Regions from separate parts of the Homo sapiens genome. Here all the other regions are reported to be linked to region 1. The links are microRNA targets in miRTarBase. Many come from high-throughput screens and were not tested one by one. Region 1 holds a microRNA gene; each other region holds the end of a gene's coding sequence.

Evidence for each region. The annotated mature microRNA hsa-miR-767-5p reads UGCACCAUGGUUGUCUGAGCAUG and lies in region 1 at 2,195-2,217, opposite strand. An mRNA with a match to its seed (bases 2 to 7 or 8) in the 3' UTR can be bound and repressed. Matches are read on the target gene's strand: a 7mer-m8 pairs with bases 2 to 8, a 7mer-A1 pairs with bases 2 to 7 and ends in A, and an 8mer does both.
Region 2: the mRNA of COL4A2 is a reported target of hsa-miR-767-5p. The part of its 3' UTR that is shown has no 7-base or 8-base seed match.
Region 3: miRTarBase lists MORF4L1 as a target of hsa-miR-767-5p. Seed matches in the 3' UTR shown: 7mer-m8 at 1,186-1,192.

What each region holds. Positions count from the first base shown.
Region 1 is chrX:152,391,287-152,395,532 of GRCh38, forward strand. MIR767 (microRNA 767) reads right to left here and starts at 2,243; the gene lies at 2,135-2,243. The region is part of intron 1 of GABRA3 (gamma-aminobutyric acid type A receptor subunit alpha3); the gene reads right to left. MIR105-1 (microRNA 105-1) reads right to left here and starts at 1,013; the gene lies at 933-1,013. MIR105-2 (microRNA 105-2) reads right to left here and starts at 3,206; the gene lies at 3,126-3,206.
Region 2 is chr13:110,511,722-110,515,945 of GRCh38, forward strand. COL4A2 (collagen type IV alpha 2 chain) reads left to right here. Exons shown (of 48, transcript NM_001846.4): 48 at 213-1,488. The coding sequence ends at 470. Among named protein-coding and RNA genes, the nearest start is that of COL4A2-AS1, 5.7 kb to the left of the region's middle. RefSeq lists enhancers at 195-823, 2,549-3,048.
Region 3 is chr15:78,896,313-78,900,558 of GRCh38, forward strand. It overlaps MORF4L1 (mortality factor 4 like 1), which reads left to right. Exons shown (of 12, transcript NM_006791.4): 12 at 671-1,827. The coding sequence ends at 755. It also overlaps the pseudogene RNU6-415P. Among named protein-coding and RNA genes, the nearest start is that of MORF4L1, 26 kb to the left of the region's middle.

The DNA.
Region 1 (4,246 bases):
AGTACAACCCCATACACAATATATGAGCAGAAATTCCTTACGCGTGCTCAGTCTACCATGGAGAATGAGCCAATACTTACACATAAAAGAAAACAGACATGACACAAAGAAAATAGCCACATAGTTGAAATTGTACAGATGATCACAATATATAATCGAAAAGCCACAATACGGGAAAGAATTCCTTGGTTTAGGAGGAGATGGCAATGGTAGGAGACACCATGACATGCGCTCCAATGATCACATGGAAGAAAAACTACCACTGGTGTTTGAGAATTTAACCACAATACACACCAATATACACTGAAAGGTGAGCTATCAATTATGATACAGGTACAGGTGGAAATAGAATAGTAGTCAACTACTGTGCTATTCTTTCTCAGAAAGACACGATGAATAATGAAATACAACACAGCAATGAATGACTTTGCCAAAGGAGTAAAGGGTATATGTGCAAAAGGAAAAACCAAGGTATAACATCAGACGACCATGCTGAATGGACAGCCACCACCAGTAATTTAGCATGTGACTAAGGTACACAACCAGACATTCTCAGAATGCAAGCTAAAAGTCATGATAAAGAATAAAGAGACATAATACAAATAATATAACAATATCAGCAAATACTTATCATTTATATGTGTCAGGCACTAATCTAAGCATTCTACATGTGCATCTTTGAATCCTCACAACTCTATGAGGTATTATTATTTATTTTACAGTTTAGAAAACAGAAACAGAAGGGTGAAATGACTTCCTCAAGAATTTCAAACTATTAAATAGGAGAACTGGGATTTAAGTCCAAGCAGTGAGCATTGTGCACATACACTGATGGTGCCATGCTTCCTCATATGGATGTGATACAAGATTAGAAACACAGAGCACAGGAACAAATGGCTTTGGTCCAGAAGCAGACGGCAATGTAGCAAAAGTAGACACCGTAGCACATGCTCAAACATCCGTGGTGCATGAGCAGCCACCACAGGAGTCTGAGCATTTGACCACGATGCACACTCAGGTTCTGCAACAGAAGCTGACATCCAATATATAGGAGTAGATACTGAGGACGAAGAAGGAGGCAAACACACTGTATGACAAAAAATCATGGTGCACAAAATTATATTCATGGTACAGAAAATTCCATTTTTAGTACAATGTAGACAACGATGGTGCATTTTCACAAATCATGATGAATGAGCAGAAGACCATAGCTAAAGGGCATAAGCACATTCATACAACCATGGAAAATTAGCCAGGGCTCACTTAGAGCCAAGAGACATCTTATGAGAAAATAATCATAAGTGGAGACCTCATAGATGGATATAGTACAAGATCAAAACATCTCAATACATGAATGATTATTTCAAATGTAGGTGGCAAAGGTGCATAGAGGACCCACCGTGTAACATGTTCAGACAAAAGTTGATGAAAGCCATTAGTGATATTTGACTGTTTGATCTTGACTTACACAGGTACACAAAAGTAGTTTACACTATTACGTAGCATTTATGCCAAAGGAGCTAAGAGGCATAGATAGATACAGCACACAAACTTGTTTTCGGAGAATAAAACCATGCTGTGGTGCTTACTTAGACAGATATTGTGCCTTATACAAGAGCCACGGTACAGGGGTAAACAGCTTTGTCCATGAGTAGATGTCAGATATGTCAAAAGAGACCTGACACCATATACTCAGATGACCATTGCATGAACAGCCACCACTAGTATTTGGGCATTTGACTATGATGGCTACCTACACAATCCCACGACATAAAGTAAAAGAATGATACAGGAGCAGGTAGACATGAAACCATGATTACCAAAACGGATATGGTTGGTGATTAAAAATCATTATTTTCTTTAGTCTGGGAGAAGATGGCAATGATTAAACGGGTGAAGTTATGATATATGCTGAAACAGCCATGTTGCATGAACAGCCATCACATCATAGGCATTTAAGCATTTGACTGATGTACAATTAGAAAGCCCAGTGACATGAGATAACATCTGTCTTTTTGGAACAGATAAACAATGTGCAGAAAAAGGCAGAAGTGATCTAAGAGTAGAGAGTCATAGAATATGAGTAAATACTAAACTCATATACACGATGCATAAAACACTATTTCCCTGTAAAGCAGTAGACAATGAAGGTTCCTGCTCAGAAACCATGGGGTATGAGCAGACAAGCATGCTGCATGCTCAGACAACCATGGTGCATGAGCAAAAACCTACAATATAAAAGCAGGTGGGTGTGATACAAGAGTGAATAACACAATGAGGAATATGCCCAGATGGACAGGACATATGAATAAAGGAAACATAACACATGAATACAACTTATTTAGGCAAACAGCATATGACAATGATGCTGGAGGAGATATCATGGCACATACTCAGGCAATCATGGTGCATGAGCAACTAACACTAATATTTGACTGTTAAACCACGATGTACACCCAGATATCCCAACAAAAATAAGCTGATGACCATAATATAGGAGCAGATGAACAAGGATATTGAAGAAGATGCTGATAATAAAATAGCAGAAAACGATAGTGCAGTAGCTAATAGAATACTACAGATGGCAACGATTCAAATGACTGCCATGGCATATACTTATATAATGATGCTTTAAACACTATCACAAGTATCAGCATTTGACCATAATGCACACTTAGAGAACTCCAGAATTTGAGCTGACAATTATTATACACGATCAAGGGACACAGTATCATTATCATCATTGTCATGTCATCATCATCATCATCATTGTTATCATCATCATCACTACCTGCCAGGCAGTATTAAAAATATTTTATGTATAATAGCTTATACAATCCTCACAATAACCTTACTACTTTTTTTGTCATTTTGCAGGAAACTGAAGCATGAAGATACGAATTGATGTGTCCATTTCATGAACTGATGTGTCCAAGATCTCATAGCTAGTAAGTGGATAATCCAGGATTCAAATTCAGTCATTTTGGCTCCACTATCCATTATTGTAAATATGACAATAAATGACAATATGCTGTGATTCTTCTGACAGACATGATACCAGATTTTAAAACAGAGCAGAAAAATGAGTGGCTTTGTTCCAGAAGCAGATGGCAATGTTGCAAAAGTAGACACCATAGCACATGCTCAAACATCCGTGGTGCATAAGCAGCCACCACAGGAGTCTGAGCATTTGACCACGATGCACACACAGAAGATCTGCAACATGAGCTGATACCAGGTTATAGGGAGTAGACAGATGACAAAGGACAGAGAAAACTCATCACAATAGTGAAAGACATGGTGTAGAAATTAATATACATAGTACAAAATACTCATTCCCAGTACAAGTAGACAATGATTGTGTATTTTCACACAAGTGTGGTGTTTAAGTTTAAATACGTAGTACAACTTCAATCACAGTATATGAGCACAAATTCATTATGTATGTTTATATTATCATGGAGAATAGGTCAATTCATACATGAAAAAGGGGATAGATATGGTATCCCAGGAAAGAATCACAGAGTAAAAACTGCTCAGGTGATACAAAAAATACGGGTATGTATGGCATTTTGTCAAAAAGAAGATCAAAATAATACAGGATGTTCAGATGAATAAGATGCCAAAAAGCATGTTTTAATATGTGTTCATGAGGTCCAGTCAGACACCTACAGGACATAGGCTATCAATTATGACACAGGTGCAGATGGACATGATATGGAAATAAAACATGGTGTGATTCTTACTTGGGTAGATATGGTATGTAATCAAAAATAACCATGCAAGCAATTAATGACTTTGGCCCAAGAGAAGATGACAGTGGTACAAAAAAAAGACTCACATGGACATAATGACTCATAAAAAAAATAACCATGGTGATTGACTCTACACATTTGTGTTTGGGCATGATATAAATCCAAACGATCCCATTACACAAACTAACAGCTATGATACAGTTAGTAAGCATGATACAGGAACAGACAGCAAATATGGAGAAAATACCCATTCTGCAGGAGCCAGTGACCACAATTCAGGAACTAATATTCATGTTATTAAAGTTATCATTCTCCACACAGAAGGAGATTATGTTTATTTTTTACACATTAATGATGGGTGAGCAATATCTATGATGTATACACAGAGAATCAATTAGTATACACATAAAATACACAAGCAGTTGGCTATCCTTCAGGAGTGGTATCCATTCAGACGCATGTCCCTATCCGATATCCACAATACTGAATCA
Region 2 (4,224 bases), not on the chromosome of region 1:
TGGTGCCTGGGGCTGCCTCCTGCAGGGGGCCCATGTGTATTTCACCAGCCCCCTCTTGCTGAAGGCGCATTCGCGAGGATGCCTCATGTCCGTATTGACACTCATGGTTTGCTGTTCAGTAAAAACAAATGCACAGAAGAGGGCTATGCCCTGACCCCGTGCCACCTGCAGGCTGTGATTCCTAACCCTGTCCTGCCCCCCTCTCTGTGCAGCACACGGCGGCGGGAGACGAAGGCGGTGGCCAATCACTGGTGTCACCGGGCAGCTGTCTAGAGGACTTCCGCGCCACACCATTCATCGAATGCAATGGAGGCCGCGGCACCTGCCACTACTACGCCAACAAGTACAGCTTCTGGCTGACCACCATTCCCGAGCAGAGCTTCCAGGGCTCGCCCTCCGCCGACACGCTCAAGGCCGGCCTCATCCGCACACACATCAGCCGCTGCCAGGTGTGCATGAAGAACCTGTGAGCCGGCGCGTGCCAGGAAGGGCCATTTTGGTGCTTATTCTTAACTTATTACCTCAGGTGCCAACCCAAAAATTGGTTTTATTTTTTTCTTAAAAAAAAAAAAGTCTACCAAAGGAATTTGCATCCAGCAGCAGCACTTAGACCTGCCAGCCACTGTCACCGAGCGGGTGCAAGCACTCGGGGTCCCTGGAGGGCAAGCCCTGCCCACAGAAAGCCAGGAGCAGCCCTGGCCCCCATCAGCCCTGCTAGACGCACCGCCTGAAGGCACAGCTAACCACTTCGCACACACCCATGTAACCACTGCACTTTCCAATGCCACAGACAACTCACATTGTTCAACTCCCTTCTCGGGGTGGGACAGACGAGACAACAGCACACAGGCAGCCAGCCGTGGCCAGAGGCTCGAGGGGCTCAGGGCCTCAGGCACCCGTCCCCACACGAGGGCCCCGTGGGTGGGCCTGGCCCTGCTTTCTACGCCAATGTTATGCCAGCTCCATGTTCTCCCAAATACCGTTGATGTGAATTATTTTAAAGGCAAAACCGTGCTCTTTATTTTAAAAAACACTGATAATCACACTGCGGTAGGTCATTCTTTTGCCACATCCCTATAGACCACTGGGTTTGGCAAAACTCAGGCAGAAGTGGAGACCTTTCTAGACATCATTGTCAGCCTTGCTACTTGAAGGTACACCCCATAGGGTCGGAGGTGCTGTCCCCACTGCCCCACGTTGTCCCTGAGATTTAACCCCTCCACTGCTGGGGGTGAGCTGTACTCTTCTGACTGCCCCCTCCTGTGTAACGACTACAAAATAAAACTTGGTTCTGAATATTTTTAAACCCCGAGTTGTTGACCGCCTTAATCTCGTGTCCATAGAGCAAAACGTCTGCTCAGATGGATGCGAGGCACAGCGTCCGCCCACGCTGCTGTTTTTAATCCATCTCAGTAGAGTTGAACCCATTCGTGGTATTACAGCCATTTCTCGGGGAATGTGTTTGTTTATAACTCACTAATGCTTACAGAAAACACCCCAACCAGGCCATGCGTGCTGGCTCACGCCTGTAATCCCAACACTTTGGGAGGCCGAGGCAGCTGGATCACCTGAGGTCAGGAGTTCGAGACCAGCCTGGCCAACATGGTGAAACCCCGTCTCTACTAAAAACATAAAAATTTTCCGGTGATTGTAATCTCAGCTACTCGGGAGGCTGAGGCAGGAGAATCACTTGAACCCGGGAGGCAGAGGTTGCGGTGAGCTGAGATCGTGCCACTGCACTCCAGCCTGGGCAACAAAAGTGAAACTCCATCTAAAAAAAAAAAAAAAAAAAAGAAAAGAAAACACCTGAACCAGCACTTGTGGGAATTTGGAGAAAGGGTACTTCACAAATGTAAGTCATTCAATTTGTTCCAACATAGGCTGGGTGCAGTGTCTCACATCTGTAATCCCAACACTTTGGGAGGCTGAGGTGGGAGGATCACTTGAGCCTAGGAGTTTGAGACCAGCCTGGACGATATAGTGAGATCCATGTCTACAAAAAAAAAAAGATCCCACATAACTTCCCAAGTCAAAGCTCAGTATTTCAAAGAAACAATCTCCGAGATTCAACTCACAGTTTATTTTGACCCTCTGAAATGCAATCTCAAATTGAAGTTTTCCTAAGAAAAAGGTTCACATTATGAAATAAGTATCCTACCTTATAATGTTATTTGAAATAGATACGCAGCCGCCCTGGCGCGTGTTCCCCCAGAAGCTGGCTGAGGCCACGACCTCTACACAGCACGGCTATATGGGAAGGCGATATCAGGAAGCCTGAGTGGGACCTGGAGGGGGTGATACCAGGAAGAAGAAAAGCCAACTCAAGGACATGGGACTAAGGGGGTTACCACTGTGGGCTGTTTAGGCTTGATCCTGCTGGGGATCCACCAAGGAAGGATCCTCAGATGGTCCAGCCATGGCTTGGAAAGGGAAGTGTTCTCCATCAGCTGCGGTCTCGACTGGTCAGGGGTTGCCTGAGGGTGCTAATTCCCTCACACTCCCAGGTGCACCACACACCAGCATGGCTGAGTGGGCTCCTGCCAGATGCCAGGTGGAGGTGGTAGAGAACCAGGCAGAGCTGAGACACGGTGTGTCAGGCCACACCTGCTCATGGCCAGTCACCACAGCAATAGCTGTAGCAAAACAGTGGGCCCAGAGCGTGTGAGACGGGGATCAAGAGACCAGAGCTCGCAACCACAGCAACTCTAGAAGCTGGGAAGCAACAATTCATTCTAGACTCCACCCCTACTGCCAAGGAGGCAACCGCAAAGTGTGCTGCAGTCCTGAAGACCCCTGCTCGACTTGAGGTAGGCTTGATACCTTGTGTGTGGATCACACCTCAGCGTCAGTGCCCAGTGTTAAACATAAAAGAAATGTTTCACCCTAGACCTAAAATAAATGAGAAGACAAAGATCCTCAACAAATAATTGGTTTCCAAAATGTGGATCATAAAATATAAACCAATCACAATTCATAACCCTGACATCTGTGCCAGGGAGCCCACGATCCCGCTGAAGTATAGTGAGTGGAGATGCCTCATCTGGAATCGAACCGCTGAACATCCTGCACCTTGAAAATCAGAGCTCTGTCCTTCATGGATCCTGCATGTTGCAAAAGACAGATTTTTTCCAGGCTAGTTTCTTGGTGCCAGGAATAACTGCTCCCTGAGAGCTGAGTGTGCTTGAACCACCCTCTAATGATGTGCCACATTTTCCAGAGGGTGGGTGCCCCAAAGTCAGAATCACTTCCATCTCCCAGCTGCTTCAGACAGTGACTTTCAGCACCCCTGGCAGAGACGCTGCTGGAATGCGCATGAAGATGCGTCTGCAGCCATCCTGACTGGGTAGGGGCGCCCAGGAAGACTCACAAGCCCTGGAGAGCACATCAGCCTTTAAACCACCCAAGAAGAGCACGTTGGCAAGGACGGCCTGGATGGGTTGCTTCAGTGGGCTGGGCCTCCGGTAAAATGAATGAAAGTACCTGTGCATCAGAGTGACATCAGGAGAATGAAATCAGTCACTACACGTGAACGTGCCCAAAGCCGCAGGTATGTATGCACTCGTACGTGTCCAGGACCTAAGAGGAAGGAGGTAGAGAATCGCTGCAACCTGGGAGTTCTAAATGTGTTGAGGTTGAGGACTGTGATTTAAAATGCACAGTGCAGGGAAGGGAGGAGAATGATTTGGAAAGTAAATTCCATGACATGCTAGACAAGGAAGGGAAGGGTAACACTGAGCTGATCTTAAAGTGACAGACCAAACCCAAGCAGATGTCTTGAAGGCAACGAGGGAACAGCATCCTCACCTCCCACACGTGGTACAGCAAGAGCCTCACTCTGCAGACTCAGGAAGGCACCAAGCTACAAACATCTATGAGCTATTTGTATTCATACAGCATAAGTTCAGCTCAGCCAATAAAATGTAAGGCTGTCCTTCCCCCTGAGAAATACTCAGTGCTTCTGGTTACACCTGGAGGTGGCTTTTCCTTGAGGCTGCCTTCCTGGAAAAGGGCCATCCACTTATTTAAAAAGAAAAAACCACAGAAGTTTCAGGAGCTCATTGAAGCCGGTAGGGGAAACGTGCTATTAATAATATAAGTAATTTGGAAATGAGTGGCGTCTCTAAGAACAAAGGCAAAGAGAACTGCACACAGCATTGTACTCTAGTGGATAAAGTTGTTTCTTGCAGGAGTACCAGTGAACAGTGCTGACACTATATTCATGCT
Region 3 (4,246 bases), not on the chromosome of region 1:
TTTTTTTTTTTTTTTTTTTGAGATGGAGTTTCACGCTTGTCCATGCTGGAGTACAGTGGCGTGATCTCAGCTCACCACAACCTCTGCCTCCAGGTTCAAGCAATTCTCCTGCCTCAGCCTCCCGAGTATCTGGGATTACAGGCATGCGCTACCATGTCCAGCTAATTTTGTGTCTTTAGTAGAGACGGGTTTCTCCACTTTGGTCAGGCTGGTCTTGAACCCCAACCTCAGGTGATCAGCTTGCCTTGGCCTCCCAAAGTGCTGGGATTACAGGCATGAGCCACCACTCCCGGCTGATAACGATTTTTTTTTTAGAAAATGTCTAGATGTTCTTTTAGGGTAATGCTGTCATGTAATAGGATAATAACTGTTTCTTAAAGATGGTTCAAGCTCCCAAGTTGGTATTCTGCAGACATAACTGTTCTTTGCTGTTTAGAAATAGGGGAGTAACTCCAGAGTTCATTCCTTTGTATATGTATAGTGTTGTTCATTGTATAACCTTATTTATTTACCTGAATTGTCATTATGTGTGGTTTTACTGTGAGAGAATGTCTGGTTTAATGTATTTTAGGAAAGTGTTTTCTGTGGCTTATGTATATAATATATAGGAAGAGATTTGGATCAAGATAATGACCTTTAAAAATTTTTGTAATGAATATTTTATTTTTAGGTACCTGGCAAAGAATTCTGCAACTTTGTTCAGTGCCAGCGATTATGAAGTGGCTCCTCCTGAGTACCATCGGAAAGCTGTGTGAGAGGCACTCTCACTCACTTATGTTTGGATCTCCGTAAACACATTTTTGTTCTTAGTCTATCTCTTGTACAAACGATGTGCTTTGAAGATGTTAGTGTATAACAATTGATGTTTGTTTTCTGTTTGATTTTAAACAGAGAAAAAATAAAAGGGGGTAATAGCTCCTTTTTTCTTCTTTCTTTTTTTTTTTCATTTCAAAATTGCTGCCAGTGTTTTCAATGATGGACAACAGAGGGATATGCTGTAGAGTGTTTTATTGCCTAGTTGACAAAGCTGCTTTTGAATGCTGGTGGTTCTATTCCTTTGACACTACGCACTTTTATAATACATGTTAATGCTATATGACAAAATGCTCTGATTCCTAGTGCCAAAGGTTCAATTCAGTGTATATAACTGAACACACTCATCCATTTGTGCTTTTGTTTTTTTTTATGGTGCTTAAAGTAAAGAGCCCATCCTTTGCAAGTCATCCATGTTGTTACTTAGGCATTTTATCTTGGCTCAAATTGTTGAAGAATGGTGGCTTGTTTCATGGTTTTTGTATTTGTGTCTAATGCACGTTTTAACATGATAGACGCAATGCATTGTGTAGCTAGTTTTCTGGAAAAGTCAATCTTTTAGGAATTGTTTTTCAGATCTTCAATAAATTTTTTCTTTAAATTTCAAAGAACAATGTGCTTGTGTTGATGCCTTACAAAAACCATTGTATATTTGTGTATTCCTTCTTGTATTTAGACAGTGGTTTTTCAGGTGCGTGCTTTGTTTTCTGGTATGGCCTTTATGGAATGAGACGCTTTAGCTTTGGTACGTAGCGCTAATCCATAGCAGCTTTGGCAGTTTGCTGTCTTGAGTCTTAGCTAAAAAGTTAGAAGTTTACATGACTGTTTTTTTTATTTTCCCTAAATTATTACTTACTCTGAGCATTAATTAAGGGCATTTTCACCTGTGTAAAATTATGGTCAGCTTTTTTCTGTCTATAATTGTTTACTTTTGTGGGTTTACTCTAGAAACATGAGCCAAAAATGTCAATAGACAACACAGTATTAAAATAACCCAAAAGTTGTAAAGGGCAACGTTTCTCCCCTTTGATAGGGACACTAAAGTGGTCTGTACTTGGGTAGAGGATGGCAGACGTTAAGAATTAAAATGCGTCTGGGTGCAGTGGCTCACGCTTGTAATCCCAGCACTTTGGGAGGCTGAGGCGGGCGGATCACCTGAGGTCAGGAGTTCGACACCAGCCTGATGAACATGGAGAAACCCCATCTCTACTAAAAATACAAATATTAGCTGGGCGTTGTGGCGCACGCCTGTAATCCCAGCGACTCACGAGGCTGAGGCAGGAGAATTGCTTGAACTCAGGAGGCAGAGGTTGCAGTGAGCCAAGATTGTGCCATTGCACTCCAGCCTGGGCAACAAGAGTGAAACTCTGTCTCAAAAAAAAAAAAAAAAAAACCCTCAGAAAACAATTAAAATGCAAAGCAGCAGATAAGTTCAGATGGCGAGAGTTACAGCAGCAATACAAGAGGGATAATGAGTGCAGGAGGGAAATAGGAGTAAGTTCCAAAGAAGCAGGATTTGCTTGGGTTGTTTGAAGGGAACTGCTTCTACCCATAGTTGTCTTCCTGCCGCCTCCTTCATTCGGCTTACTTGTTCTCTTTTTCTTTACCCTTTTTGTCACAACTGTACTGATTTAGTTGGATTTCTAACAAATAGGGATTGTTGTTGCCTGGGGTCTTTCAGCTGTTGAAAGTTCTTGTTTATCTAGATGTGACTTAAAAAATGAAACACTTCAAGAATTTACGTGTCATTCTTGGCACAGGGGCCATGCTAATCTTGATTGTTTGAATTTTTAATATTTTTGCTAACAAAATGAGCCCTAGATGTGATTTTTTTTTTTAATGTGTACTCATGGTCCCTTGAACATTAGTGTTACTGGTTAGGTATTTAAAGATTTTCTTGCCGAGCGTGGTGGCTCACACCTGTAATCTGTAATCTCAGCACTTTGGGGCTGAGGTGGGAGGATTACTTGAGCCCAGGAGTTTGAAAGTAGCGTGGGTAACGTAGGGAAGAGACCTTGTCTCTACAAATAATTTTTTTTTTTTTTTTTGAGGCAGAGTCTCTCTCTGTCATCCAGGCTGGAGTGCAGTGGTGTGATCTCGGCTCACTGCAAGCTCCGCGTCCTGGGTTCATGCCATTCTCCAGACTCAGCCTCCCGAGTAGCTGGGACTACAGGCACCCGCCACCATGCCTGGCTAATTGTTTGTATTTTTAGTAGAGATGGGGTTTCGCCACGTTAGCTAGAATGGTCTCGATCTCCTGACCTCGTGATCTGCCTGCTTCGGCCTCCCAAAGTGCTGGGATTACAGGCATGAGCCACTGCACCCGGCTTCTACAAATAATTTTATGAGTAGCCTGGCATGGTGGCGTGTGCCCATGGTCCCAGCTACCTGAGAGGCTGAGGCAGGAGAATCACCTGACCCCAAGATATCAAGGCTGCAGTGAGCTGTGATTGTACCATTGTGTTCCAGCCTGGGTGACAGAGCGAGACCCTGTCTCCTAAAAAAAAGTTGAGGACTCGATCTTTTCGTTTATATTATCAATATTTACTGTGCTAGAAATTAAAACTTTAAAACTTAAAAATACGTGTCTTCATTAGTCATCAGAATGATACCGTCACACATCATGTAACCTCAGGAAAATTTCATGTACACTCGAGAAAAAGACTGATTTAAAATAGCTTTAACCTCATAGGCAGCATGAAAATATCTCAGGTACTGCAGAGATCTCTGGACCACTCGTTGAGAACTGCCGCTATAGATATTTGTGTCCTGAGGGTTGTAACAGTCTTAGGGTTCTGTATTCAGAAATTTAAACATTCCTTCACAAAACCTGAAAGTCAAGATTTTGTTCGTTATTCATTAAGCCTCCTCCCTCCATTTAAATATAGCATTAGAAAAGAACATTGATAGGTTTACCTGATGACACTAAAAGAGGCAGTAATCTTTGGACATTAAATCTACAGAGTATTTTGAATATGTTTTCATTTACTAGTAATTTTAATGTCGCTCCAGAATATCTTACATATTAGTAGTAAGTAGCTGGAATGATGTAATCAAAATCATACTGATTAATAATTACTTACCAAAACATGAAATTAGATGAATATTAATATTAGTACCGTTAGGTTTTAATACGGTTTTTTCTTTATTTTTTATTTTTTGAGACAGTCTTGCACTGTTGCCCATGCTGGAGTGCAGTGGCGCGATCTCGGCTCACTGCAACCTCCGCCTCCCAAGTTGAAGCAATTCTCCTGCCTCAGCCTCCCGAGTAGCTGGGACTACAGGTATGAGCCACCGCACCCAGCTAGTTTTTGTATTTTTTTAGTAGAGATGGGGTTTCTCCGTGGTCGTCAGGCTGGCCTCGAACTCCTGACCTCAACTGATCCACCTATCTCAGCCTCCCAAAGTGCTGGGATTACAAGCGTGAGCCACC